4 linked regions of the Homo sapiens genome follow. The protein of the gene in region 2 interacts with the protein of the main gene of each other region in a biochemical or structural test. Each region holds a gene or a part of one and is shown on either strand. Other genes may lie near its edges.

The links.
Region 1: the proteins of ERBIN (region 2) and MPP2 interact in a test that uses a peptide from one of them, tested with the Homo sapiens proteins (one study listed by BioGRID).
Region 3: the proteins of ERBIN (region 2) and SCN4A interact in a test that uses a peptide from one of them, tested with the Homo sapiens proteins (2 studies listed by BioGRID and IntAct).
Region 4: the proteins of ERBIN (region 2) and MAPK12 interact in a test that uses a peptide from one of them, tested with the Homo sapiens proteins (2 studies listed by BioGRID and IntAct).

Annotation. Positions count from the first base shown.
Region 1 is NC_000017.11:43,904,516-43,912,015, reverse strand, and holds the start of MPP2 (MAGUK p55 subfamily member 2), read left to right. Parts: upstream 1-4,479; 5' UTR 4,480-4,542; exon of another isoform or gene 4,543-4,803; intron 4,804-5,264; exon of another isoform or gene 5,265-5,332; coding exon of another isoform or gene 5,333-5,461; intron 5,462-5,864; exon of another isoform or gene 5,865-5,936; intron 5,937-6,035; exon of another isoform or gene 6,036-6,648; intron 6,649-7,500. UniProt on the Homo sapiens protein: Postsynaptic MAGUK scaffold protein that links CADM1 cell adhesion molecules to core components of the postsynaptic density. In CA1 pyramidal neurons, required for synaptic KCNN2-containing channel function and long-term potentiation expression.
Region 2 is NC_000005.10:66,076,558-66,083,052, forward strand, and holds the end of ERBIN (erbin), read left to right. Parts: intron 1-317; coding exon 318-392; intron 393-1,865; coding exon 1,866-1,973; 3' UTR 1,974-5,989; downstream 5,990-6,495. UniProt on the Homo sapiens protein: Acts as an adapter for the receptor ERBB2, in epithelia. By binding the unphosphorylated 'Tyr-1248' of receptor ERBB2, it may contribute to stabilize this unphosphorylated state.
Region 3 is NC_000017.11:63,962,908-63,969,930, reverse strand, and holds part of SCN4A (sodium channel protein type 4 subunit alpha), read left to right. Parts: intron 1-1,575; coding exon 1,576-1,908; intron 1,909-3,357; exon of another isoform or gene 3,358-3,386; coding exon 3,387-3,450; intron 3,451-3,687; coding exon 3,688-3,829; intron 3,830-5,253; coding exon 5,254-5,463; intron 5,464-5,722; exon of another isoform or gene 5,723-5,847; intron 5,848-6,105; coding exon 6,106-6,259; intron 6,260-6,616; exon of another isoform or gene 6,617-6,666; intron 6,667-7,023. UniProt on the Homo sapiens protein: Pore-forming subunit of Nav1.4, a voltage-gated sodium (Nav) channel that directly mediates the depolarizing phase of action potentials in excitable membranes.
Region 4 is NC_000022.11:50,258,679-50,265,994, reverse strand, and holds the start of MAPK12 (mitogen-activated protein kinase 12), read left to right. Parts: upstream 1-4,311; 5' UTR 4,312-4,485; coding exon 4,486-4,610; intron 4,611-4,698; coding exon 4,699-4,828; intron 4,829-7,316. Other genes in the region: MAPK11 (mitogen-activated protein kinase 11), read left to right, coding at 335-413, 501-674, 968-1,047. UniProt on the Homo sapiens protein: Serine/threonine kinase which acts as an essential component of the MAP kinase signal transduction pathway.

The sequences.
Region 1 (7,500 bases), on a different chromosome or scaffold from region 2:
TTCCGCAGGAGAACCTGAAGTCAGCCAGGACACAGCAGACAGCCAGAGATAAGGACTAACCACCCACGGCCCGCTGGCACCTAGCTAGAACCTGCCTAGACCTACTCCCAGAAGGGAACTGCGTTTATAGAACACCTTCTGTGTGCCTGGCACATGGCAGCCACTCTACCTCTGTCCTCTCCCAAAGTTGTTATCCCTATTGTACAGATGAGGAAATTGAGGCTTGGCAAGGTTATTTAACTGGCCTAAGACACACACATGAAGTGGCTGAGCCAGGATTTCAACACAAAATTGTCTGGTTCCAGAACTTCCCACCCCAATAGGGAGGTGGGCAGACTAAAATCAGGAGGCAAGGGAAAGTGCAATTGTTGGGCCAGGTGGAGGAACAGATGCTGCTTACAAGAGAGGTTTTGGGGCTCTGCCCTCTAGAAAGGCAATCTGACATGAACGCAGGCCAGGCTGGTGGTAATGGTAGTGGTAGTGGCGGAGGAGGCTTCAATTTCTGTCTTGAGGTTGTGGGATGAGCAAGAGGCCAGGAAACTTGGTCCTTCACGGAGGCCTTGGTTTAGTCCTGGTGGGAAGGCAAAGCTGTCTGGATCCATTCCTGTCTGGATGCCCTGTTGAGGCGGGGACTAGGGAGGACGGCATAGCTTTTCCTTTAGAACAGTGGTTTCCAAAGTGGGTGTGCACCTAGGGGTGTGCAAGATGATCCTTTTGGGTATGGGAAGACAAAATTGGAATTTCTATTTATAGTTAAAAAATTAATCCTGGCCTGGTGCAGTGACTCACACCTGTAATCTCAGCACGTTAGGAGGCTGAGGCAAGTGGATCACTTGAGCCCAGGAGTTTAAGGCCAGCCTGGGCAACATGGCAAGACTCTATCTCTACAAAAAATTAAAAAAAAAATTCTCCAGGTGTGGTGGCATGCAGCTGTGGTCCCAGCTACTCTGGAGGCTGAGGCAGGAGGATGGCTTGAGCCTGGGAGGTCCAGCCTGCAGTGAGCTATGATCATGCTACTGCATTCCAGCCTGGGCAACAGAGTAAGACCCTGTCTCAAAATATGTTTATTTATTTATAAATAAAATGAAAATAAAAATTCATCCCTATGTGTGTGATTTCTAATATGCATACTAATTAGTTGAATAACACAAATATAGTTTATAGGCAAATATTTATATAATTTTATATAGTCCATTGAAGGCTCTAATTTTTTTTTTTTTAAATACGGAGTCTCACTCTGTCGCCCAGGCTGGAGTGCAGTGGCGCAATCATGGCTCACTGCAACCTCTGCCTCCCGGCTTCAAGCGATTCTCCTGCCTCAGCCTCCCAAGTAGCTGGGATTACAGGCGCCCGGAACCACTCCCAGCTAATTTTTGTATTTTTAGTAGAGACAGGGTTTCATCATATTGGCCAGGCTGGTCTTGAACTCCCGACCTCACATGATCTGCCCACCTCGGCCTTCCAAAGTGTTGGGATTACAGGTGTGAGCCATGGCACCTCGCCCAAGTTTTTTTTTTTTTTTTTTTTTTTTTTTTTAAGTATAGTCCATAAATAAGGTTTCCAGAACTAGGCACTGGCCAGTCGCAGGTGTGGAGGCGAAGCACCTCAGAGGCTGGGTGTAGATAAACTGGGAATAGCTGTTGGTGGCCCCTGCTGGTCATTATAGGAAGTGCACCATCACTCAGTGCAAAGCCTTACCTGCTGGAAATTTGTAACACTTTTGAGTTTTATTTTTCTCTGTGCCTTGACTCCCAAAACTCTGGGCTGAACACCACCATAGGAATACCTTGATTTTGGGGGAAGGAGATATACTACCTGCACCTTTATGACCTCTGAGGCTGAGGCAGGGAGGAAGGCAGAGCTAATTACAAACCTCAGAGAAGGAGGACTCATTCCCCTCTTGAGGTAGGGGGCAGCCCTTAACTACTAGGGGATGCATTGCCGACCTTCAAACCTGCTTCCCTTCCCAGCTACTCCATTGCCAACCATTAGCAGCTCTATTCCTTTGGGGAACAGCTTAGGACACACTGCACCTTTATTATGGCATTCAGCTGTGCTACCAAGAAGCGCTTTTTGTATCTATGTAACACACTCCTTTCCGACTTCAACCCCAGACTGTGAACTCTAGGAGGTTAGGGCCCTTATCTCAGTATCACAGTAAGTGGTACCTTGCCTGGCACAGAAGAGGAGCATCCTATTCTGCATCAATAAATGTTTCTTCTCATTCTGTAACTGCACAAGGCTGTTGTGAGAATGAAACAATTTGTCAATTGTAAGGTCCTGAACAGATGTGAGAGGCTGGCATTCTGCAAGGCCTTTATTAGAGAGATACTTGTTGACCGACGAATGCAGTGGGGCAGCCGCTAAGAATAATGAGTTGGGCTCCACCTCCCCAGGTGGGCCAGAATCTGAGATCCCAGACTGTCCTGAGGATCCTAAATGGAATGGAAGATTTGATGTGGGTCGCTATGGAGGTAATAATTGCTTGATTAAGAAGTAATTAATATCTTGTAGAGATTCAAGATCCTTCCTCTTCCAAAATACAAATAGCTGAGTGATTTCCAGCCCAGAGGTGGACAGGTGACAGTGGAGGGTAGCCTTTATAATGGAAAGGGGAACTCTTCCTGAATTCAATTATAAGGATTTTCTAGGCCGGGTGCAGTGGCTCATGCCTGCAATCCCAGCACTTTGGGAGGCTGAGGTGGGCAGATCACCTGAGGTCAGGAGTTCGAGACCAGCCTGACCAACATGGAGAAACCCTGTCTCTACTAAAAATACAAAATTAGCCAGGCATGGTGGCGCATACCTGTAATCCCAGCTACTCGGGAAGCTGAGGCAGGAGAATTGCTTGAACCCGGGAGGCAGAGGTTGCGACGAGCCGAGATCATGCCATTGCACCCCAGCCTGGGCAACAAGAGCGAAACTCCGTCTCAAAAAATAAAAATAAAAAAGAAGAAGAAGAAGAAGGATTTTCTAGCTTGCAGATAGAGGAAAGAGCTGCAAGCAATGCGCTCCAAGAACCCTCTTTGTTTAGAGACCAAAGCCTGCAATTCCTGTCAAAGCTATCTGGGTTCGATGGCTTTCTTCTCTCAGTAAAAGCCTGGGTCACCTAAACAATGTGGTTTTCAGCAGTTCGGCCGCCTCTGTGGCTTTTTCCTATATCCAAACTTATACCCTTGGAACTCAGGGGAGAGCTGAGTCTTGGAACCCAGGGACCAGTCCCCTGCTTTCGGGATAGATTCCCATTTCTGAGATTTCCAAGCAAGTTTCCAGAATGTAATCCATTTCTTTTCTTTTTGTTTCTTTTGAGACAGGGTCTCACTCTGTTGCCCAGGCTGGAGTGCGGTGTTGCAATCTCGGCTCACTGCAGCCTCAGCTTCCCAAGTAGCTGGGACTACAGGCGCGCGCTACCACGCCCAGCTAATTTTGTTTATTTTATTTTTTGTAGCGATGGGGTTTCACTATGTTGCTTGGGCTAGTCTCGAACTCCTAGGCTCAACCGATGCTCCCGCCTCCGACTCCCAAAGTGTTGGGATTATGGGAGTGAGCCACCGCGCCCGGCCAAAGATGCAGTCCATTTATGATCTTAGGAATCCAGTTAGCAAGGAAAAGGGATGACTCTCACATTTTGTTCAGGGCAACTGGACGGGGTGGCTGAACGCCGAGGTCGGAGAAGTAGCGTAGCTGGCCCCAAATGCTAGTCGCACTGCACAGAGCCTCCCGTATTTGGAGGCCCAGCATCTTTTACTAGCAGATGTGGGGTGGAGCCGGAGGCTGGGCGAAGGCGGGCCAGTGGGTTTAACCCTTTATTTACTTTTTGGGCTGGGACTCTGAGGAAGGCTAGCCAGTTACTTCTTTATTCCATAGGCAGGAAAATGGACCAGGCCTCCCTCACCTAGACCTAAAAGAGGCTCTCGAATCCTTTCAGGAAGACATTTCCTCTTTTTTGCAAAATTTCTGGAAAGTCTGGAATCCGGATATCCACCCTCTGAGTCCTTAAAAAGCTGCCCCTGATCCCGAGGCCTTCTGGGGCTGGTATCCTGCTTCCTGGGAGTCTCTCTGAAGTCCTCCTATTCTTTTTCTCAATATGGAAGCAGGATAACGAGGAAAAGTGAGGCACGCCTGGAACTAGAACGCCGGTCTAAGCCAAGATGGGTGGGCGGAGTAATCAAGCCGGTCTCATTAGGCACTTTTACCATCGCCCCTTTAAGGGATCCTTGGGAGCCGAGGGGCACCAGCGGGTACTGGTACCAGTCCTGCCTCCCTAACCCTTCCCAGTGGGACTCCAGCAGGGCGTCGTGGTCTGTGCGGTGTCTCCCAAACCACTACCTGGCTGCCCCCGTACCAGCTGCTGGGAAAGACTACTTCCTCCGAGTTGTGCCGGCCTCCGCGTTCTCCTCACCTCCCCTCTCCTCCGGACCTCCGCCCCCTCGCGGAGAGGCCTTGCCGCTTTAAGAGCCGGGCTAGCGATTGACAAGCAATAAACGCTGAGCGCCCGGCTGCGCTGGAGCCGCCCGGAGCTAGGGGCTTCCCGGGGCGCAGGTAGGCGTCCCCCGGCCCCCGGGCCAGCTCCTATCCCAAGACCTCCGCCTTCTTTTCGTCCTGACACGGCACTTAGGACCCTATTCACTGGGTTTAAACTCCACAGGCCCCTTTCACCCAGGCCCGTTCCCTCCCTGTCCACCCGCCCCCGCCCCTGGGCCCTCTTTCTGGGGTGCTGGTTGGGAGAACCAAGCCCCGCTGCCCATTGACACTGGTCCCCGCCCCTGCGGTAGGGGCTCCAAAGTGGCTTCAGGCACCAAGGTGGTGAGCTGTGAGGGGCCCCGGTATCTGCGCGGCCTCCCCGGGGGCTGTGCGGGTTGGGGGTACTTAGAAGCCCGGCATTACGTAAGAACCGTGCTGTTAGCGCTTCCGGGGGTTGGGGAGCGAGACAGAGGTTGCGCTGGGTCCCGGTGGCCCCCTGGTCCCCCTAGGCAGCTAACACCACAATCTTCCCTGGGAGGGGGTCCGCAGAAGGGCGCGCGCTGCTTCTCCCGCTTCCCAAGCTGTAGCGGGGCGGGTCGGGAGCCAGGGTTAGGGTCTGGAGACTTGGGAGGGGACCGGTGCCAGAAGCGAAGAGCTAGGGTTAGAAAGTTAGGTCAATTAAGGGGGGGGCGGTGCGGATAAAGACGGGGTGGGGGTTGGCCGGGGCAGTCATTTAGTGACCTCATCCCTGGTCTCCGGCGGGCGCGCACGTAGAGAGCCTTCTTTGATGGCTCACAACACGCCCCCCTCCCCCAGGTCCTAGCGCCCAGGGTGTTAGGGCTGGGTCCGTTGGGGCAGGGGTGATCTGATGGTCCAAGCATGCACGTCCGCCTGGCCTTTCGACCCCATCCTCTGGCCCTCAGTTCTGTCCAGACCTCCCCGCGACCTCTCGCTCTCCAAAGCGCCTTTGTCAGACCTTTCTTCTCCGCACCTCTTTGTATGTGTATGGATGGAGGGATGGGTGGGAGGTTGGAAGAAACCTCTCCCTTTCACTGCTGGTCCGCTCGCCTGCGGACACTATGGGTGATGTGGATATCTCGGAGGCAGAGCTGAGAGGGCATCTGGGCCCAGGCTTTTGGAAGCCGAGGTGCAGGTTCCCAGATGTCTGGGTGCAGGACCTTGGCACGGAGCCAGGCTAGCTTGCCTGGCACTGCCGTTCTCCTGTGGACACAGCCAGGCCCCGCCCTCTCAGAGGCTTGGACGGGCGTGGGGGAGCAAAGCCAGCCGATGCTCTGGGAACCGATTCCCCGGGAGAAAACCCAGGCAGGCTGGGCAAGACTTCCGAGCGCAGGGATTTCATACAGGATCCTCCCTGCCTTTTCCCGCCCTCCACGCTCTAGGGAAGGAGGACTTCTGGAGTCCCTTCTCTGACCCTGTGAGGGAGAGCAGCGCCAGCCAGGAGAAGGCTCCAGGTCATCAAGGCCTGGGAGGGGGAGGGAAGGGATCCCTCCTCCCTGCTCTCTAGGAGTAGAGATTGGCACCAGGGGCACGGGCCAGCACAGTGGATCCTGGGCATTTCTTCCAGCCTGGGTGTAGCCTGAATAGGGGTGCCCTTCCTCTCCCTGAAAGCACCTTTATTCCATGTCCTCAGCGGCAGAGCTGGGAGGAAAGGGAACCATCCCCCTCACTTTTGTAATTTCTGTCACCTGAGCTCAGGTGACCAGCTCAGGCCTGAGAAGGGAATGGGAGCAGAGAGGGTTTTATTGAAATCAGGTACTAGTCCTCTGGGAAGAATCCTCTTTTGGGGGGAGGTGGAGTTGCCGTGGTTCCCCCACCCCCAGGACTCAGCAGGCATTCAGTCCTAAAGTGGGCACTGCCAGATGCTTCCCCCCACTCCCCACCCCTGCTGTGAGCCACTGCCTCCTGTTGTCATGGCAACTGGGAATTAGGGTTTTATCCAGCAGCACATGCCCAGGAAGGCAAAGGGAAGAAGGGTGGGGGGTAACCCCCTGCCCTCTCCTGGGAGAACGAGGGAGCCACTCCTAGCCTGGGGAGGCCCTGGAATGGAAACTGGGGCTGTAGACTCCATGCTTGGTTCTGCCCAGAGCACTTGGTCTCCTTGTGCCAGCTCTGAGCTAAGAAAGGGAGAGAGGAGAGAGAGCCAGCCAGAGGGGCCGTGGAGAGGTAGATATCACTCTGTCAGCCCCCCAGATAAATGTGGAACATCGGCGCTTTGGTAGGCCTAGGTTCCAGAAGCAAATAAAATCAATGTGGTTCTGACTCTCAGGGAACCTGCAGTCTAGGAGTACTCATGTTTTCTACTTTGGCTCAAATTCTGGACTCTTTTATTATTTTTTAAATGACTTTTTTTTTTTAAGACAGGTTCTTGCTCTGTTGCCCAGGCTGGAGTGCAGTGGCGCAATCATGGCTTACCGTAGCCTCGACCTCCTGGGCTCAAGAGATCCCCCTGCCTCAGCCCCACAAGTAGCTGGGATCATAGGCATGCACCACCACACCTGGATAATTTTTAATTTTTTTGTAGAGATGGGGGTCTCGCCATGTTGCCCAGGTGGGTCTCAAACTCCTGGGCTCAGGTGATTCTCCTGCCTCAGCCTCCTAAAGTGCTGGGATTATAGGCGTGAGCCACCTTGCTCAGCCAAATTATAGTCTTACCCTCTAAAAATTCTACTTGTTTCCTCTTCAAAAAACAAACAAACAAAAAATACAACAGGAAGAAACACTTTATTTATATACTTATTTTTGAGTCATAAAACCTGGATTTTCATTTTAGCTCTCCTTATTAGCTTTGTGAACTTGGGCAAATCAGTTAACCTCCCTTATCCTCCCTGGTCTCCTCCTCCTCAGAGAAATAGGCGAGTAATACCTGCTCTTCCTGCTTCCCAGGACCGTTGGAATCATTGTTGTTCTCCAACCCCCACTTTCTGGGCAGCACCTTCTCCCCTACCTTTCTGGCTCGTCCTGAAGGGGAGGCTCTTCCTATTCCCTTCCCCATTGCTTTGCCCTTGTATCTGCTCA
Region 2 (6,495 bases):
GTAATTTGATCAGTTCAAGTTAAAACAATTTAACCAAAAACTATGAATGTTTATGATATAATGAAATGATTTTTAACTTTCTTATTGCTTTTTCACACACCTATAAAAGTAATTTTATTACTCTCAAGAGAAATCACTAAAGTCAGAATTACTAGAGGTAAAAATAACTAGTTTGTTACAGTATTACTCAGAGAAGTCAGGGAGAAAACTTGTACCATGATTCAAATATTTGCATGGTGTGGAGGAAAAATTGCTCCTTGGTACTCTGTTATTTATACATACTGTTTTTAGTTAAATAATTTTTTTTGTTGTTAAAGGGTATATTTGTAACAAGGGTACAACCTGAAGGACCAGCATCAAAATTACTGCAGCCAGGTGATAAAATTATTCAGGTAATTAAAATAAATCTTTTTTTTTTTCATTTTATAACACTCTAATGTTTTCACAGTTTAAAATGTTTTCACTTTAACTTTGAAAATTGTGGGTGGGAGGCTGAGGCAGGAGAATGGCGTGAACCCGGGAGGCGGCACTTGCAGCGAGCCGAGATCGCGCCACTGTACTCCAGCCTGGGCGACAGAGCGAGACTCTGTCTCAAAAAAAAAAAAAAAAAAAGTTTGATACATCATAGGATTTTGTTTAAGCTCAGGAATGTTAATTTTTACTAATTTGAGGGGGATTAGAGTACCACTTCTTGGATGTGGGCTATTGTCCTTTCAGAAATGGAGAAGAAAAATTTTAAATCTGCGAAACTCATTTTTTCCTGTCCCCTCCTTTTCTTTGTTCATTCAGCTACTCATTTTACCTAAACACTTACAGTCTTAGAAGGAAGACAAACCTAGGACACAAGTATAGCTCTCATTTTCTACCCCTACTGTCACCGTTCTTAGCTGAGAACTAAAGAACTTAAAAAATAATCCTCAAACCAAAAAAAAAGGGAGAGAGAGACATTAATGTCTAATAGCTGAAAGTACAGATTCTGAAAGCCAGACTGCCTGAGTTTAAATTCTGGTCCCAACACTTTCTAAAAATAAAACTAATTAAAAAAAATTTTTTTTGAATAATTTTAAGCTTAGAAAAAAGCCACAAAAATACTACAACAAACACCAGTATTACATCAATTGGTCACCAGTCGTTCATAATTTGCTACATTGTCTTTATCATTTATTCTCCTCTTTCTTCTCTTTTTCTCCCTCCCTCCCTCTACACACACACACACACACACACACACACACACACATACACACACACACACAGTCACACTCACTCATACAGTTATACACATTTATTTTTCTGAACCATTTGGGTTTCAATTTGTGACTGAGCAAGTTACTTTGCCTCTCCATGCCTGGGCTTTCTCTTCTCTAAAATAAGATAGTGAAAGAATCTTTTTTGAGCATTATGAGAATCAAAGGATCTAATTCATATTACACCCTTAGAATTGTGTGTTTGGTACACAGTAGAACCTCAGTAAATATTAAGCTTAATTGTAAGAAATATGGTGGTCTTGATGTGATGGCTCCAAGACAATGGGAAGAGTAGCCCTTGCCCCCTGCTACGCTACAGTTTGGTCACCTCAGATACACATTAGCATTATACGACACCATGTCTGACATTATTTCTTAAGTAAGTGATTTCTAACATTGGGCTGCTACATAAGAATTGGCTGAGAAGTTGGACAAAATACACATTTTTAGACCCCATCTTCAGAGACTTTATTCCTTGGTTTGGGTAGGGCCTGTGAATCTGTATGTTATTTTAAGTTGCCAAAGTGATTCTTATTTTCTTCCAAGTTTGTGAACTACTTGGCAGAAATGCAAATAAATAACTATAAAATGTTTTTCCTAAAAGCATTTTTCCTCTTCTAGGCTAATGGCTACAGTTTTATAAATATTGAACATGGACAAGCAGTGTCCTTGCTAAAAACTTTCCAGAATACAGTTGAACTCATCATTGTACGAGAAGTTTCCTCATAAGCACTGTGGACAAAAAAAGCGGGGAAGACAGCAAGATTTATTGGAAGATACTTACAGGGGAAATTAATATTTTGACTATTTTTATATATAAAGAAGAACTCAAAAAATTATGTTCAAATTTGTACATTAATGAAATAATGGAACTTGTGGTTAGAGGGAAAGAACCACTGTACAGAATATAAAGGAGACTGTTGAATTCATACCATATAAAACTTGTTAGGTTTTTAAACATAGCAATCAAGGCTACAAAAACAAACCTGTGTTGTTTTTGTATAGATTGTAGGTTTATTTTTGGATTTCATATACATGACTGAACTGTGTGCAAGGCAATAGTTAGCCTTGATTTTAGCCCAGAGACAGATGGCAGAGCTATCTCTCTCATAGCTTTTATGCCCTTATTTTTATTCAACTGGTATTAATGTTTTTCTCCTGAAACTACTTTTTTTGATGTGGGCAAGAGATTTGAAGTGTTGGCTTTTGCTATGTGCATATTGAATTGAAGAGTGAGTAGGTGAAGGTGGTGCTGGTGGGTTCACTTTCCAAGGCCAGACTAAAACAGTTATTTTCTATAAAAATCTGGAAGCAAAGAATGGGGATGGGGAGAGCTACGTGGTAGTATGTTTTTATTAGGAGAATAATGCAATAAAATATGTAATGTCTTTTTTATAAAGCAAAAAAGACAATAATTGCATTTATGAGCTCGGCAGGATCTGTTCTTGTCATAGCCATTGACTATACATTTGCTACTGGTGATTCAGTTTTTAATTTTTTAGTCACAGGAAATTTTTAACTCTACTGTAGATGCATGTCCATGCATTTTCTGTGTTATGGAAATCCACTGATTTTTTTTTTTTTTTCAAATGGTGGTACTTGCAATCTGTTTTATAATTAGTGCTCCATTTAAATCTAATTTATAATTTTTATTTTAAGCAGCAAATGAAACAAAAATGGCCAGTTTTAAGATTGTGTTGCCTGTAACACAAAATGTTACGAAGGTTTAGGAAAGCCTCTTTGATTTTTGTTTGGCCTTGCATTGCCTTGGTAAAGTAAAAGGAAACAGTACACTTGGAGCTAGGAAACCAAAGCAAGCTTTGTGAAACTGGCACAGTGATAGAGAATTGCTGTGGAGAGTTATAGAGCAAAGGGATGGGTCCTTGAGGCCTGCCAGTGTGTAAAGGTGTTCAAATAAAGGGCTGTTTCTACAGGTAACATTAAATGTGAACTCAACACTTCCAGAGTCTTTAAAGGGTTTCTATGTGTATCAGTGTAATAGTGTTTTACCACCAACTGCCTTTCTTTGTTCCTAGTTACTGTAACAAATATTTGATGATAGAGGTTTATTAATTTTGTTTATCCAGACCATTAATTTTATTTGTTTTTGTTCTATGTAATCAAATAAAATTTGAGTAACATGTAATGGTAAGGATTAATGCATGGTTATTTGGACCAGAAAAAAGTGCCATAGAAGACCAATAACTGTTTAGTTGAGGCTAGTCTGGAACCTTTCATTAGAGCAATATTTGGTTATTGCACTTCATTTTTATTTACTAAGAAATGCAATTTGGGAATTTTTAATCTGTTATGCTTTGTTTATCAACCTTGATTTTAATTAAGACTTTTATAAGACTAGCTTAAAACACCAACCAACATTATTTTTGCAAAAGTGAGTTGGACTCACTTTCCATTCTTGCTAGTCAGAGTAAGTAGGCAGCACTTTTAAAAATATGTGAACTCAAATATTGCACTTCTTTCAAGATGTTATCAATTGGTTATTGTACTGTATAGTTTTAATAATTTTGATTGAAACCCTTTAACAACTCTTTGTAAATTTTAACTCATTTTAGTTGATTTTCAGTACTATTTACATAGGAATTGATTTTTATGGATATAGTAGAAGAAATGTGCTGTATTTTGATAAAATTCACTTATTGTATGTGTGTTGTAATCTAAAAAAAAAAAGAATGACAAACAGCTTCTTTAAGACAAGTCTCGGTGTTCCCTTTATTCTTAGTTTGTTTTTAAATATTAATTTTGGCATTCTAAAATAGCTAACATTTCTTTTATTGATTTCAGATTTTCACAGGCACATTCTACTTTTAATCAGAAATATATTTAATAAGTATAATTGTGAAGTTTTCAACTACTTTACCTTGAACCACATATACCAATTATAATTTTGGAAAAGGAATTAAGCCTCACGGAACAATGGATCTTCAGCAAACCTTAACTTCATTGTCTGCACATTACATTGAAGTATTATAAATGCAACAGATGTTATATGCACTGGCATTTTATCCTACTCTAGTTAGTTAAAATTTTATAGTATTCTTGCAACACATAAAGTTGCGTAAGAAACTTTACCAAGAGGAGTATTATAGCCAAGTTTTCTTTGAAAGTATTGGAAAACTAAAATTAAATGACAAGGACTTTGAATTAGAATTTTGCTGTAATAAAGTTTCAAAATTTGAATAAAATAATTAAATTTTTTGAGGAAGTGGAGAAGACATTTTTAGTTTATATATTGTTGAGTAAATTGTAGTTAAGGCCTATACCCATAACTAACTTTAGTAAGTATTATATAGCAATTCATCAAAACCACAACTGTCTTTTAGTGATTTTGTCTTTAAGAGTAATTTCTTACTCTAACCAGTAAAAAAATAATACTGATCAGAGTAATTTATACGGCATACAATAGTTGATACAATCTAAAGATTTATGCTAATTAAGGAATTATCACTTCATCTGAATCAATGAAATTCTAAAATTCCCTACATATTTATTTTGTAAATATTCTTCTGACCTCTTTGGACTGGATATGAAGATATATATATATACACTTAATTCTTTTAAACACAAAACTTGCCATAAGCAGAACCAAACTTTTAAGTATTAATTTGCTGCACTTAAAAAATCCCATTAGCAGCTATGTAATATTTTTATCAACCAACATTTATTCATTCCAAATTTTTGTATATATCTAGATGAAGTAACACATAGAGGATAGATAACAAACTAATGATGTTTAAACTGGTTTATTTACAAAATTCGGGGTTAGAGAAATTCTCATGAAAAATATACAATTTTTTTTTAGCATTAAAACCCTGTATATCTAGGTGTGGAAGAAGTGTAGTTTATCTCAAATTATTATTATTTACTTCTAAAGGGAGGCATTAAGATGGGAAATGTTTCTCTGATGGAGATTGACGTGTGAAATCTATTTGGAAGGGTATTTTTTTCACTCAGTCTGTTGCATTCTTACAGCCTTCTGTTTTAATGTTCAGTGAATAGGTTTCTTATGAAATGGACATTGAAATAAAAATTATGATTCAAGAGCATTAATTGATGAACAAGTGAACAAGATGCCTCTTTAAAAAAAAAAAAGAAAAAGTAATCTAGACAGGCAGCCAACTCAGACCTTTGGGTATTCCTTTGTTTCTAAATAAGGACCTTCAGAAAAAGTTGACCATATTCTACCTAAAGCTGCTAATTCTTTACAGAATTCATAAGCCCAGGGGATAGTAAGTAGTCATTTAGTTTTGGAAAGTTCTTAAGAGAATGCTATCTTCTACAGTCTCATGAAGCAGTTTTTCAAGATTAGAATCTGTGGTCAGCTATAACGTACAGTCCTAATATCCAACCACCTGAGAAGCTCATCCTAAGCTGAGAAAGCCTAAAATGTTAGAGAATGTTTAGAGAAAACACCTGAAATTTTTTTTAAGAGAACAACCTAGGTTTTATTGTAGAGAACAATCAAAATACTCCTGAACCTTTCTATAGAATCTTTAGGAGAGAGGCTGACAAAAAGAATCCTTCTGTTACAACTTTCTTTTCTAATGTAACAACCAGGGACAATGGTGATCTGTCACGCATCTGCCCATCTAGCTTCTCAATCGGCCCACGGTTTTATTTCAGGATAAAATTTGAGAAACTAGTATCACTGGGGAAGGAAGAAACCTAAGCTGTAAAATTATGCTTTTCCCCTCAAGGGATTCAATAAAGCTTATTTTTCATGAAAACAAGCCTATAAATACTGACTTTCCTTAAACCTAATCAAATTGTGTTCCTCCAAGGTATAGCTTTAGAAGGATCTTCTTTCAGTTGCTCTTTCAAACTTTTCCTTGTTAGAAAAGAAAAACTAATACAAATTGTTAAAAAATTAAAGCATGAGCAGAGAGCATGGATTTTAGATGATTTTAAGTTTCCTCATCTTCATGAAAAGAAGAACCTAATACTCTGAGAAGTAATGCCTGTCCAGAATGCACACTAAACATCTCATATTTGGATCATCCTTCACTGCAGCATCCCTCAAAGGAACATTCATTCTCCCAAGAACAAGAGGAATTGTTTGCAGATAAATTATTCAAGGTAGCAAAATGGAGCATGCTTCAATCTCCTCATCCTGTCCACATACCTACAAAGGACAGAAAAGATTATTAATACTATGATAGGCAAGAGTGTTATGTAATAATAATATTACCAGTTTTGTAAAAAAAAAAAGGGAGTACACTGGATCCATAATTTT
Region 3 (7,023 bases), on a different chromosome or scaffold from region 2:
TGGCCCATACCTGTAATCCCAGCACTTTGGGAGGCCGAGACAGGTGAATCACTTGGGGTCAGGACTCTGAGACCAGCCTGGCCAACGTGGTGAAACCCCGTCTCTACTCAAAATACAAAAATTAGCTGGGCGTGGTGGCATGTGCCTGTAATCCCAGCTACCTGGGAGGCTGAGCAGGAGAATCACTTGAATCGAGGAGGCAGAAGTTGCAGTGAGCCGAGATCACACCACTGCACTCCAGCCTGGGCGACAGAGCGAGACTCTATCTCAAAAAAAAAAGAAAAGAAAAGAAAAGAAAGTAAGAAAGAAAGTACCTGAGCTATCTTCTAGTCTAAAGCCCTCTGACTGCAGCCGAGGAAGGTGTGAGACCCAGGAGAGGAAGCACTTCCCAAATTCCACACTGTACATTGGCCACTGAGCCAAGACGGCATTGCCTTTCCTCTGTGCCAGCTGCCAGCATCCTCGGGGCGCAGGAGGGCTTTTATAAGGAGGCTGCCGAGCATTTGTTTTCCATATCAGGATAAGAAAAGGAAATGAAGTCATATTAACGCAAGAGGCACTACGATTAGGCCCAAGGAAGAAGTTACGGCTCTTCCACAGGTGATGGGAACCTGCCCCTGGGATTATTTCAGCATCGTTTATGCCTTTGTCTGTCTAAAGAATATAATGATGTTTCAAGTTCAGTCTAGAGCTTCTGCTGTTCCTCGGGTGCTACTAGGCATTTTAAGGAAAAGGGTTCTGTGGTCAAATATGTTAAGGATACGTGGGATTAAAGTTTTTGTTTAATAGGCCAGGTGAGGTGGCTCATGCCTGTAATCCCAGCATTTTGGGAGGCTGAGGCAGGCTGATTACTTGAGGCCAGGAGTTCGAGACCAGCCTGTCCAACATAGCGAAACCTCATCCCTACTAAAAGTACCAAAAAAATGAGCTGGGTGTGGTGGCATGCACCTGTAATCCCAGCTACTTGGGAGGCTGAGGCAGGAGAATCACTTGAACCCAGGAGGCAGAGGTTGCAGTGAGCCAAGATCACGCCACTGCATTCCAGCCTGGGTGACAGAATGAGACTCTCTCTAAATAAATACATAAATACAAATAAAGTTTTTGTTTATTTCTGCAGGACTTTTCAAAGCCTTTGATAGGATCAACTACATAATGACTCTCCAAGAGCAGAATCTAGAACGCAGCTTTTCCCAAACATTATCAACGCCCCCTTTTTAAGGGCACAGCATGGGAGATTAGCGTTCTGTTGAACACACTTTGACAGCGCTAACTTAGTGACATGTATTAAGCTCTGCTGTATGCCTTTGTTTGCTCTATAGGTCAGGCAACAGCCCATCAGGTCTTTATAGTTCATTCTCCTAGTGGCTGAGCGTCTGTGGCCATTTGAGGGCTCCAGATTGAGGATGTGAACAGAGAAGGGTGGAGTTAATTTCAGAAGGCTTCGGGGAAGTAGTGGTGCTCAGTAAGTCAAGCCTTGAAGATGGAGTAGGAAAAAGCTTGGCGGTGGGGGCCGCGGGGGCTCTGTTATCACCCTGCCCTGCCCCCTGCCAATATCCTTGCCCTCTCTGCGGTCAGGGCTGAAGACGATCGTGGGGGCCCTGATCCAGTCGGTGAAAAAGCTGTCGGATGTGATGATCCTCACTGTCTTCTGCCTGAGCGTCTTTGCGCTGGTAGGACTGCAGCTCTTCATGGGAAACCTGAGGCAGAAGTGTGTGCGCTGGCCCCCGCCGTTCAACGACACCAACACCACGTGGTACAGCAATGACACGTGGTACGGCAATGACACATGGTATGGCAATGAGATGTGGTACGGCAATGACTCATGGTATGCCAACGACACGTGGAACAGCCATGCAAGCTGGGCCACCAACGATACCTTTGATTGGGACGCCTACATCAGTGATGAAGGTAAGAATGGGGAGGGTGACGGGCAAGGGGGATCCTGTCCCAGTCCCTAGGGTAGCCTCTGACTCCACATTTTCTTTTTTTTTTTTTTTGAGATGGAGTCTCACTCTTGTCACCCAGGCTGGAGTGCAAAGGTGCCATCTCAGCTCACTACAACCTCCGCCTCCCGGCTTCAAGCGATTCTCCTGCCTCAGCCTCCCGAGTAGCTAGGATTACAGGCATGTGCCACCAGGCCCAATTAATTTTTGTATTTTTAGTAAAGATAGGGTTACATCATGTTGGCCAGGCTGGTCTCGAACTCCTGACCTCATGTGATCTTCCCACCTCGGCCTCCTAAAGTGCTGGGATTACAGGCGTGAGCCACCGCTCCCCGCCCTGTCTCCACTTCTTATGAGACAAATAGTATGGCGAGGACCTGAGCTTAAAGCTAGCACTTGGCAGCCTGTGTCACCTCTGACTAGTCACTTGATCTCCCCAGCCCTCCGAATCCTCACCTATAAAATCAAGATAACAATACCTTCCTCAAAGGGTTACTGCAGCAACAAATGGCAAACTGTTTTAAAAACCCTAAAGTGCCAGGCACGGTGGCTCACGCCTGTAATCCCAGCACTTTGGGAGGGCGAGGCAGGCAGATCACCTGAGGTCAGGAGTTCCAGACCAGCCTGACCAACGTGGTGAAACCCCGTCTCTACCAAAAATACAAAAATTAGCCGGGCGTGGTGACGCATGCCTGTAATCCCAGCTACTCCAGAGGCTGAGGCAGGAGAATCGCTTGAACCTGGCAGACAGAGGTTGCAGTGAACCGAGATCATGCCATTACACTCTAGCCTGGGCAACAAGAGTGAAACTCAGTCTAAAAAAAAAAAAATCCTAAAGCTCTCACTATGCAAAGCAAGAGTCTATAGTTCCTACTCCCTAACCTGTGCACCCCCTGTCCTCCTTCATCACACCACATTTTCACATGCTCACATCCTGGCAGGGTCACCATCACCCACCCACACACCCACATCCTATTCACATATGCATCTTCACAGGCACACATGCCAGAAACACACACATTCTCACACAGCCACTGTTAGTCTACATAGCGCCTTCTTGCAAATTAGGAAAAGGTAACCCTTCTCACCCTGGCACCTGGATTCCAGCCCCCACTCACCCTTCACTCAGGGGCCCTACATAGGTACACAATAACCCCATGCACACACGTACACGTTCCGTCTCTGTGCCACTGCTGCGTCATGACTTTTCGTCCACACTGGGCACTGGGCTGACAGGGCTCAAGCTGAGCTCCCTGCCGAGTCCCTACCCAGAGACCTTGGAACTTGGAGCTGTCCTTAAAGGACGGGGAAGAGGCAGCCAGGGAACATCCGTTTGGTTTATGTGGTACGCGCAGACCTGTCCACAGGTGTGCAATGGGCGCAGGTGCTCACACTGTGTCCATGTGGGTGACTTGCCTCCTTTGTGGCCTCTGACTCCCAAAGGGAACTTCTACTTCCTGGAGGGCTCCAACGATGCCCTGCTCTGTGGGAACAGCAGTGATGCTGGGTGAGTGATGCTAAGGGATGCAGAAAAGGCACCCCAGGGGTCTTGGAAGGTGGGAGCTGATTAGAGATGAGGACCTGGGGGGCATGGGAGTGCAGGGAAACCTGTGGGCATGGATGGAATACTTTTCTGTTTGGGGGACACAGGCAGAACTGACGGAATTTTTCCCTTGGGGTCCCTATCTGCCCCCAGCTGGAGTGCTCCTCCCACCCTAAACCCAGCCCCCTGTCCTATTCCTAGGCACTGCCCTGAGGGTTATGAGTGCATCAAGACCGGGCGGAACCCCAACTATGGCTACACCAGCTATGACACCTTCAGCTGGGCCTTCTTGGCTCTCTTCCGCCTCATGACACAGGACTATTGGGAGAACCTCTTCCAGCTGGTACAGCTGCCCCCACCCTGCCCCCCAACCCTACAGCCACTCCCCCTCCATCCCTGCAGCCTCTTCAGGGCCTGATGGGGCCTACCACAGGATGGCCAACCCCCGAACTGGGCCATCTCCTCATGGACTCCCGCAGTGCCCTTATAGGAGCTTGTGCTCTCTGAAACTAGACACCTGCCCCGAGCCAAGCCACAGCTTTAATTCTTTCCACACCTTTGCTTTCAGAGCCAAGGTCTGGACCTAGCATAGGCACAAGCCCAGGACCCCCTAGGCCTCATGATAGCCAGTAGGGCAGCTTAGAAATCCAATGCTGCCTGCCGGGCGCGGTGGCTCACGCCTGAAATCCCAGCACTTTGGGAGGCAGAGGTGGGCGGATCACGAGGTCAGGAGTTCGAGACCAGCCTGGCCAACATAGTGAAACCCCATCTCTACTAAAAATACAAAAATTAGCCGGGTATGGTGGCACGGGCCTATATTCCCAGCTACTCAGGAGGCTGAGGAGGGAGAATTGCTTGAACCCGGGAGGCGGAGGTGGCAGTGAGCCGAGACCACGCCATTGCACTCCAGCCTGGGCGACAGAGCGAGACTCCGTCTGAAAAAAAAGAAAGACAGAAATTCGATGTTGCCCATACTTTATTTGCCTTCTACTGTTTGCAGGGAAGGCAGGCTGAGCCTGGAGTGACAGTGCCTTCTGATGCCATGTGATGTTTCTAACATTGATGGTGTTGATAACAATAACAAAAATAATAACAGCTACTGGCTGGGTGCAGTGGCTCATGCCTATAATCCTAGCACTATGGGAGGCCGAGGCAGGCAGATCACTTGAGGTCAGAAGTTTGAGACCAGCCTGGCCAGCATGGCGAAACCCATCTCTACAAAAAATACAAAAATTAGCCAGGTTTGGTGGCAAACACCTGTAATCCCAGCTACTCAGGAGACTGAGGAAGGAGAATCACTTCAACCTGGGAGGTGGAGGTTGCAGTGAGCCGAGATCACACCGCTGCACTCCAGCCTGGGCAACAGAGTGAGACTACGTCTAAAAATAAATAAATAAATTGATTAAATAATAATAATAGCTACTATTTGTTGAGTTCTTACTAGGTGCCAGGCACTGTGGCAAAGCTAGAATTCAAGCTGACCCCAAACCCATGTTCACCAATTTTCTATCCTGGCTCTCTGATAACAGGATGCCTGGCTTCGGTCCTCCTCTGAGCCAGGAGACCAGAAACGTTTGAGTCCCAAGTAGATATTTTGAAGTTCCCCAGAACATGGCTCAGCATGCCAATGACGGCCATCAGTCCCCCAGGCTCTGTGAGGGAGGGGCTCTGCTTACCCATGCGGGCAATGGATGTATGGAAAGGGGCACTGGGTCAAAGGAGGTGGACGTCATGGGACCCCTCCACTCCCTCTCCCTCCACTCCCAGACCCTTCGAGCAGCTGGCAAGACCTACATGATCTTCTTCGTGGTCATCATCTTCCTGGGCTCTTTCTACCTCATCAATCTGATCCTGGCCGTGGTGGCCATGGCATATGCCGAGCAGAATGAGGCCACCCTGGCCGAGGATAAGGAGAAAGAGGAGGAGTTTCAGCAGATGCTTGAGAAGTTCAAAAAGCACCAGGAGGAGCTGGAGAAGGTCTGGACTCAGGGAAAGGAGATAGAGGACCCAGGGTTCTACCTGCCCTCAGCCGGGGCTGCCACTGGCTTCTCCCTGGGGGGCCGAGGGTGAGGGAGGGTACAGGGGTAGGGGTTTTGAGGCAGAAGGAGCAGAAGGCCCTGGGCTGGGAGCTTTGCTGGTGGCAGGGGGATGGAGGGATCCAAGCAGTAGAAAAAGCATTTCTCTGCTCTGTGCCTCAGTTTCCCTGTCTATAACAAGGAATCTGGAGTAGCTAAACCTGAAGTATTCTTCCAGCTCAAATATTTCTGATTTTGTGATGCTTTCTGGGTAGTGGATAGGTCCATACTGAGGGAAGGGCAGGTCCTGATGAGGCCACAGGGAGCGGCTGACCAGTTTCTCATTCTGTCAACAAGTGGAGGGTTAGTCAGGGCATCAGAGTCAAGGGTCTTCAGGGCAGAGGGTCTTTAGTCACTTTGGTCCCTACCCTGTCACCCCCACCACCATGGAGGTTGGTCCCTCCCCCACCTGCACTAAGTTTGACACAGGCCAGGAAGAGGGGCTGCCACCCTGAAGGACTCTGGAAGAAGCTCTGAGGGTCAATTAGTCCATCCCTCTGGCTCAGAGCTGGACTTCCTGCCAGTCACTCTTGCTGGTCTACAGGCCAAGGCCGCCCAAGCTCTGGAAGGTGGGGAGGCAGATGGGGACCCAGCCCATGGCAAAGACTGCAATGGCAGCCTGGACACATCGCAAGGGGAGAAGGGAGCCCCGAGGCAGAGCAGCAGCGGAGACAGCGGCATCTCCGACGCCATGGAAGGTGAGTGCCTTGTGCCCCCGTGCCCACTTAGGTAGGGGTGGAGCCTGGCTGGACTGGATTCAGGAGGATAGGGATGCCATGGAAGGTGAGTGCCCTGTGCCCCCTCTACCCATTCAGGCCCCTGAGGTCAGGGTGGGGCCTGGCTGGACCAGCTTCAGGACAGTAACTTAATATTGGCATAGAAGAAATGGCTATATTTATACTATATTTATCACAGCCATTTCTGGCTGTCACAAATATAGTCCTGTCTTAACCTGGCCCAGTTCTAGCTGCAAGGCCAGGCTGCTATGGGAACTGGGGGCTTCCGGGAGGGCCTTGGGGACTGCCCAATGGGAAGCACAGGCTAATAATACTAACCAGAAGGCCCAATGTTCCGGAAACTGGACATCCTGCTCCTCAAGTGTTCTCTGGGTAAAAGTTAAAGGCCAAAAGTCAAATTCTGCCCAAACAGAGTGACAGACTCCCCAATCCCTGTGCCACATGCTGAATCTCAGAAGAATAAGGATGTCATGATGAGAGAGGGTGAATAGACACGACACGACAGATGGATGGACAGATGGATGGACGGACGGATGGATGGATGGATGGATGGATGAGAGGGAGGGAAGTAGGGAGGCAGGAGGGAAGGAGGAAGCACAGGAAAAAGGGACAATAGAGAAAAGGAATTCTGACACACAGAGATGTGGTTCCCTCCCCAGGTCGGCTTGCCTTGTGCCAGGGAGTTGGGGGCCCTGCAGGACTTTGCAGATCTCTAGAGGTCACCA
Region 4 (7,316 bases), on a different chromosome or scaffold from region 2:
CAGGGCAGTGGGGGTGGGCTGGGGGCCCAGCAAGCAGTGCCTGGCCAGGGCAGTGGGGGTGGGCTGGGGGACCCCAGCAAGCAGTGCCTGGCCAGGGCAGTGGGGGTGGGCTGGGTGGAGGGAGTGTACTTGGACCCAGCTCCTGCAGGCATTAGGGGCCAACTGAGGAGCTAGAACCACCAGATCCTATATGGAGGGGGTCACTGGTCTGCCTGTGCCCTTGTCCTGGCCTGTTGGAGTGAATGAGTCTGGGGGCTTGCCAAGAGAAGCCCCAGTTTGGGGCCAGGGAGGCAGAGAGTGAGCAGCCTCCCCAGGTGTTCTTGTGTGCCCCCAGGCCCGGACATATATCCAGTCCCTGCCCCCCATGCCCCAGAAGGACCTGAGCAGCATCTTCCGTGGAGCCAACCCCCTGGGTGAGGACTGCCCTGGGCTAGACTGGGCTCCATATCTGGCCCTGGATGTACAGCTGACCCCCCTCCCCACCACTGGCTTCCCTGCAGCCATAGACCTCCTTGGAAGGATGCTGGTGCTGGACAGTGACCAGAGGGTCAGTGCAGCTGAGGCACTGGCCCACGCCTACTTCAGCCAGTACCACGACCCCGAGGATGAGCCAGAGGCCGAGCCATATGATGAGAGCGTTGAGGCCAAGGAGCGCACGCTGGAGGAGTGGAAGGGTGAGCATGGCAGTGGCTGGGGGTGGGTCCAGGGGCCTGCGGGCTCCATTTCCCCAGAGGCAGGAAATGCCCCAGTTCCTCTCCAGACTGGTCAGGTGTGGAAGGGCGTTCAGGTGTCCAGCACAGGCTGGGAGCGGGGCGGAGGAGTGACACAGGGCAGGTTCTGGCTCCCAGACTGTGCTGAGGCTGCTGTCACAGGGTGGTGGGCCTGGGCTGGGTGGCAGGTGCCAGACAAGCAGGTGAGGGGCCGGGCTGTGGGAGGCACAAGCTCACCCTTTCCCTTCACCTCCTAGAGCTCACTTACCAGGAAGTCCTCAGCTTCAAGCCCCCAGAGCCACCGAAGCCACCTGGCAGCCTGGAGATTGAGCAGTGAGGTGCTGCCCAGCAGCCCCTGAGAGCCTGTGGAGGGGCTTGGGCCTGCACCCTTCCACAGCTGGCCTGGTTTCCTCGAGAGGCACCTCCCACACTCCTATGGTCACAGACTTCTGGCCTAGGACCCCTCGCCTTCAGGAGAATCTACACGCATGTATGCATGCACAAACATGTGTGTACATGTGCTTGCCATGTGTAGGAGTCTGGGCACAAGTGTCCCTGGGCCTACCTTGGTCCTCCTGTCCTCTTCTGGCTACTGCACTCTCCACTGGGACCTGACTGTGGGGTCCTAGATGCCAAAGGGGTTCCCCTGCGGAGTTCCCCTGTCTGTCCCAGGCCGACCCAAGGGAGTGTCAGCCTTGGGCTCTCTTCTGTCCCAGGGCTTTCTGGAGGACGCGCTGGGGCCGGGACCCCGGGAGACTCAAAGGGAGAGGTCTCAGTGGTTAGAGCTGCTCAGCCTGGAGGTAGGGGGCTGTCTTGGTCACTGCTGAGACCCACAGGTCTAAGAGGAGAGGCAGAGCCAGTGTGCCACCAGGCTGGGCAGGGACAACCACCAGGTGTCAAATGAGAAAAGCTGCCTGGAGTCTTGTGTTCACCCGTGGGTGTGTGTGGGCACGTGTGGATGAGCGTGCACTCCCCGTGTTCATATGTCAGGGCACATGTGATGTGGTGCGTGTGAATCTGTGGGCGCCCAAGGCCAGCAGCCATATCTGGCAAGAAGCTGGAGCCGGGGTGGGTGTGCTGTTGCCTTCCCTCTCCTCGGTTCCTGATGCCTTGAGGGGTGTTTCAGACTGGCGGCTCCAGTGGGCCAAAGGGCAACCACATGAGCATGGGCAGGGGCTTTCTCCTTGGATGTGGGACCCACAGCAGCTTCCTGAGGCTGGGGGTGGGTGGGTGGGTGGTTTGGCCTTGAGGACGCTAGGGCAGGCAGCACACCTGGATGTGGACTTGGACTCGGACACTTCTGCCCTGCACCCTGGCCCGCTCTCTACCTCTGCCCACCGTTGTGGCCCTGCAGCCGGAGATCTGAGGTGCTCTGGTCTGTGGGTCAGTCCTCTTTCCTTGTCCCAGGATGGAGCTGATCCAGTAACCTCGGAGACGGGACCCTGCCCAGAGCTGAGTTGGGGGTGTGGCTCTGCCCTGGAAAGGGGGTGACCTCTTGCCTCGAGGGGCCCAGGGAAGCCTGGGTGTCAAGTGCCTGCACCAGGGGTGCACAATAAAGGGGGTTCTCTCTCACTTGGCTTGTATCCAAAGGCTACTCCAGGCCCGGGTGCCCCCACCATCCCTGCTGCTGGGCGTGGGGGGAGTGTCTGGGTCATCCTGCATCACTCACCTCCAGCTGGCCAGATCCCTCAGGCCCCCAGTCAGACCAGCGGCCATCTTCTGGCACCCTCCCTGCTCCCTGGAGGGTCTGAGAGCCCAGGGGGACCAGGGGAAGACATGGCTGATGGGCAGACTTTGAGGGCACAGGGTGTGACAGCCACCCAGATGGTGACCCCAGCTGCCCTGTGGGGATGTACTGGGCAGGCTTGGCTTTGGGCCAAGATCCAGACACCACCCCCGCCTACCCCTCAGTGTTCAGGGAAGCTGGCTGGGGAGAAGTTGGGTGTCTCAAGGAGCAAGGGTCTGCCCATCCCTGGGTGGGGGCTGGGCAGGGTAGGGAAAATAGCTTTCCTTTCCCTCCTGGTGAAGGAAAAAGAGGCCACTTTAACCCAGGGAATGTGCACGCTGGTCCCGTTCCCACTACGCGCTGCAGCTTATGTGTGGGGGAGGGTCCAGGCCATTTGGGGTCAGGCAGTGTCTCTAAGGACCAGGGACAGTCTGTGCCCTTGCTTGGGTCTTGGGTAGGGGTGGAAACCGTCTGGGAGTTGGGGGCCTCCTGGGGCCTGGTCAGTGTAGTGGTCAATCCCGGGGGAAGTCCAGTGTTGGCGGTTGGGGGTGGGAGGAGAATGGTGACACAGCCCCACCTCAGAAGCCTGGTCCGTGCAGGGCCTGCTGGACCCCTGAGCCCCACCACGGGGAGTAAGGGGGACAGCGTGGAAGCTGGGCTTCCTGGAAGAGGTGGATGGAGTGCCACAGGCAGCCCAGGGCACAAAGGGTATGGGCCACAGGCAGCTGTGGTTTGGGTGGCCCTGGGCTGCCCCGCTCACTGGTCACGAGCTGGTGAATGCCGTGGAGCACGGCCCAAGCCCAGGTGTAAAGCTACTACCACCCTTGAGCGGCTGAGCTGCTGATTCATGGCAGGAGGGCGGGGCAGAAGGCCCTAGGGATCCTGTTACCCACCAGCCCAGTGGGCTCCTGGGGTGCCCCAACATCCCTTCTGAGATCCAGGTTCCTGGGCTGGTGAAGGGGTGTCAGGGTGGGGCTTTGCCCTCAGGAGCATCTGGTCCAGGATGGGGCCAGACCTATGGGAGGACAATGCCCACACAGAGGGGTCAGGCGGAGGGCCCCAGCAGGTCCCCATCCCTGCTGGAGAGAGTGCAGCCACTCTCAGCCTGGGTTTTGCAGGACAGGACAGGCAGGGGTGGGATGGGCAGAGACACCAGTACTTGCAATGCTTGGAGCAGGCACCCCACAGATGGGGGGAGCAGGGGGAGGAGCTGGGGGTCCAAAAGGGCCCACGGGGACCTATGGGACTGAGAGGCCCGGGGTCAGTGGCCACAGGAGTGGGGTTGGGGATGCAGCCTGAGGAGTTTGGGGGACAGACCCCTCCGTGTAGAAAGAGGGATACAGGCAGGACAGGTGCAGATGGACCCCTTGTTGGGGGACGGATGGATCAGGCTCAGTGGTAGGGCATCCTTGGGGGTGGCCTGCGAAGTTGACCCCGGGAACACAGGGCTCAGCCCGACTTGCGGCTGCCATAGAAGTCAGCGCTCAGGCTGTCAAGGATGGGCCCTGCGCCCTGGAGCCGTGGGGAGTTAGGACTGGAGCGGGCGGGGGGGGGGGGGGGGGGCTCCTGCTGAGACCCCCCCAGGGCGGGGAAGTTCAGCCAAAGGGGAGAGGCTGGCAGAGGTATCTCCGCGCCGCGTCCGGCCCTTTATGGGGACGAAGCTGCGGGGCGGCGCTCCCCTCCCCCTGCGCTTCCCCCCAGGCTCCGGCCCTCCCCAGGCTCCGGCCCTCCCCCGGCGGCGGCCGCCTCGGGTTTCCGGAGGGGCCGGAGGGCGGGCGAGGGCGTCACGTGCGCGCCGCCCGCGGGCCGGTTGGTCCCCGGGCGGGGGAGGGGCCGTGCGCAGCCTGGGTCGGGGTCGGGCCGGGGTCGGCACCTGGGACATCCCTGAGGGAAGGGCCGGGAGCGGGAGCGCCCCAGCGGCCGGCGGGCGGGCGGGCGAGCGGACGAGCGGCGCGGAGCCGGCCCGAGGCGCGCGCCGAGGGAGCCCCGTCCCCGGTCGTGGGGGCACCGCCCGCAGGCTCTGCGGGGTGGGCAGCTCCCGGGCCTGCCATGAGCTCTCCGCCGCCCGCCCGCAGTGGCTTTTACCGCCAGGAGGTGACCAAGACGGCCTGGGAGGTGCGCGCCGTGTACCGGGACCTGCAGCCCGTGGGCTCGGGCGCCTACGGCGCGGTGTGGTGAGCGCGGGCCGGGCGGGGCGGCCGGCGGGGCGGGCGGGGCCTGCGCGGGGTGCCCGGCCTTCCCGCTAAGCGGTCCGCCCCGCAGCTCGGCCGTGGACGGCCGCACCGGCGCTAAGGTGGCCATCAAGAAGCTGTATCGGCCTTTCCAGTCCGAGCTGTTCGCCAAGCGCGCCTACCGCGAGCTGCGCCTGCTCAAGCACATGCGCCACGAGAACGTGAGTCGCGCGGCCCCGCTCCGGGAAGGCGCCGCGGCCTCGGCTTGGTTCAGCTGGGCTGGGTTCCCCCACCCGGCAACCCCTCCTCCAGGCAGCCTGCTGTGGGGCCGGGCGGGGGTCGGGCCGTGGGTCCCCAGGGGAGAAGGAGAGCAAGGCCTGTCTCTCCTTGGGAGACGACTCCCCCAAGGGCCGTTCCCCATCCTCCGCCAGCCCCGGGAAGGACTCAGCCCCTTGACTCGGCGCCTCAGCCAGGCCCTGGTCAGGGAACACGACTTGGCCAGGCCCAGGGGATCCTCCAGGTCTCACGCCAAGCCTTGCCCCCAGCCAGGAAGCCCGCGGTGAGAGCATGCTCCCGGCGGGAGGATTTTCCTGGAAGGGGCACCTTCCCTCTTCCCCATCCCCTTTCCAGCCCCTCTGTGGAGCCCACTCTGCTGCTGTCCATCTCCCGAGTCTTCCGACCCGGTGGTGGAGGGGGAGGAGGGGGGCGCCAGAACGCAGGGAGTGTGTTGAACCCTCAGGAGCCCCTGGGGGTGAAGGGTTTAGGGAGCTGCTGTTTGAGGAGCACTGGGCGTGGTGGCCGCCTCACAGACACCCTCCTGTGCGTTGTGGGGGCCCATCCTTTCCAGTCCTTCCAGTGAGATGCCACGTACAGCTGCCCTGGGCCTCTCCCATGGCGGTGGCTGGCTGCTAAGAACCCGATCTCTCTGCCAGGGGTGCTCTGGTTTCTGGATACAGTCCCACTTGTCCACTGCCCCCCACGTCACTCCTGCCCTCCCCCTGGTCTGGGCCCAGCCTGAGGGCTGGTGGTCTGGGCACCCGGACCCTACCTACAGGGTGAGATGCTCTGGACCCTCCTGGGTCATCTGAGCCACCGGTGCCTTGGGAGAACGAGTCCCTGCGTCCACCAGCAAAGTGCCCCGTCCACCAGCAAAGTGCCCCGTCCCCCGGTTCCTGGCCACCGCTACTCCCTCAGCCCCTTGGATGGGTCTTTTTCTCTGAGGCTTCCCATGCCCACCCTGACCCCCAGCTCACTACCCTGGGCCCTGTGAAATCCATTTGCAGTGGACACCAGCCCTGCCCGCACCTCGACACCCCGTCACACCCAGCCCTGCCCCCACTTCGCCGGCACCGCACCCCCCCACCACCCGCCCATCACACCAAGGCCTTGCCCCAGGACTGCAGCCTTCCCCACGGCCCCCTGCTCCCACCCACCCACTCACCCACCCGTGCCTTGCCCCATCCAGCCAAGCGCTCTGGGGCTTTTTTTCTTTTTTTTTCTTTTGAGACCGAGTTTCGCTCTTGTTGCCCAGGCTGGAGTGCAATGGCACGATCTCAGCTCACTGCAACCTTCGCGTCCTGGGTTCAGGCGATTCTCCTGCTTCAGCCTCCTCAGTAGCTGGGATTACAGGCGCGCGCCACCACGCCTGGCTAATTTTTTGTATTTTTAGTTGAGATGAGGTTTCACTATGTTGGGCAGACTGGTCTCGAACCCCTGACCTCAAGTGATCTGCTCGCCTCGGCTTCCCAAAGTGCTGGGGTTACAGGCGTGAGCCACCGCGCCGGGCTCCACCGGGGCTTTTCTTTAGCCACCGCCCCGCTGTGCTGGGATCTCCGCTGTGCCTGTGGGCCCACCCCCTGGGCTCCTGGCCTGCAGCTGAGGCTCTTTCCCTGGAACCCCATCTTCCTGGGAGACTGAAGCTCTGTGAGGCCACGTGCCTTGCTCAGCGGGGGAGGAGGCTCTGCCACAGGCCTCAGTCCTGCCAGGCCGCCTCCCTCTCCAGGCCAGCCCCCATACCACAGAGGCCAGGCCAAGTCCTGTGGCCCCTAGCCCACAGGACCCTGCTCTCCGTCTTCTGCTAAAGCACTCTCCCGGGCACCCTCCAGCTCTCATGTCCACAGTCCCCGCTGCCCCCTGGACACCCCCTCTGTTCCCTCTCCTCCTCCCTCCACATTCTTGCCCATGGCTCTGGCCCACGTGGCTCCGGCGGAGCTGTCCTTCCAGCTTGTGTCCATTCTTACCTCACTCTGGCCGGTTCCTACACCACGGCCAGGAGGACGCATTTAGCCTCACGTCCCCATTTAAATCGTCCCCGTCTCTTGGGATCAAAGCCAAACTTCCACCTGGTGTGTGCTGCCCTGCCGGCTCCCTCTGGCCTCTCCTCAGCCCCTCCCTGGCCTGGGCCTCCGCCACCTGGCCTCCCTCCCTGTATTCTTCAAACTATCCAAGTGTGCTCCCTCCTGCCTCGGCCACTCTGTGTGTGCCCTCTGCCAGGTGTCCCGCAGCCCACATGTCTACCTGCCCCTCCACCCTTGGCTGTGCAAAACTCCAGGCCTCCCTGGGACCGTCACCCCAAAATGCTGAGGCGGCAGTTGTCACATGACCTGTCTACTGTCTATCTCCCCAACCAGGGGTGCTGAGGGGACCAGGTCTGGTGGGTCACGGTGCTGTCCGCCTGGGCCTCACCAGCAGAGGCCTGGCCTCTTTCCA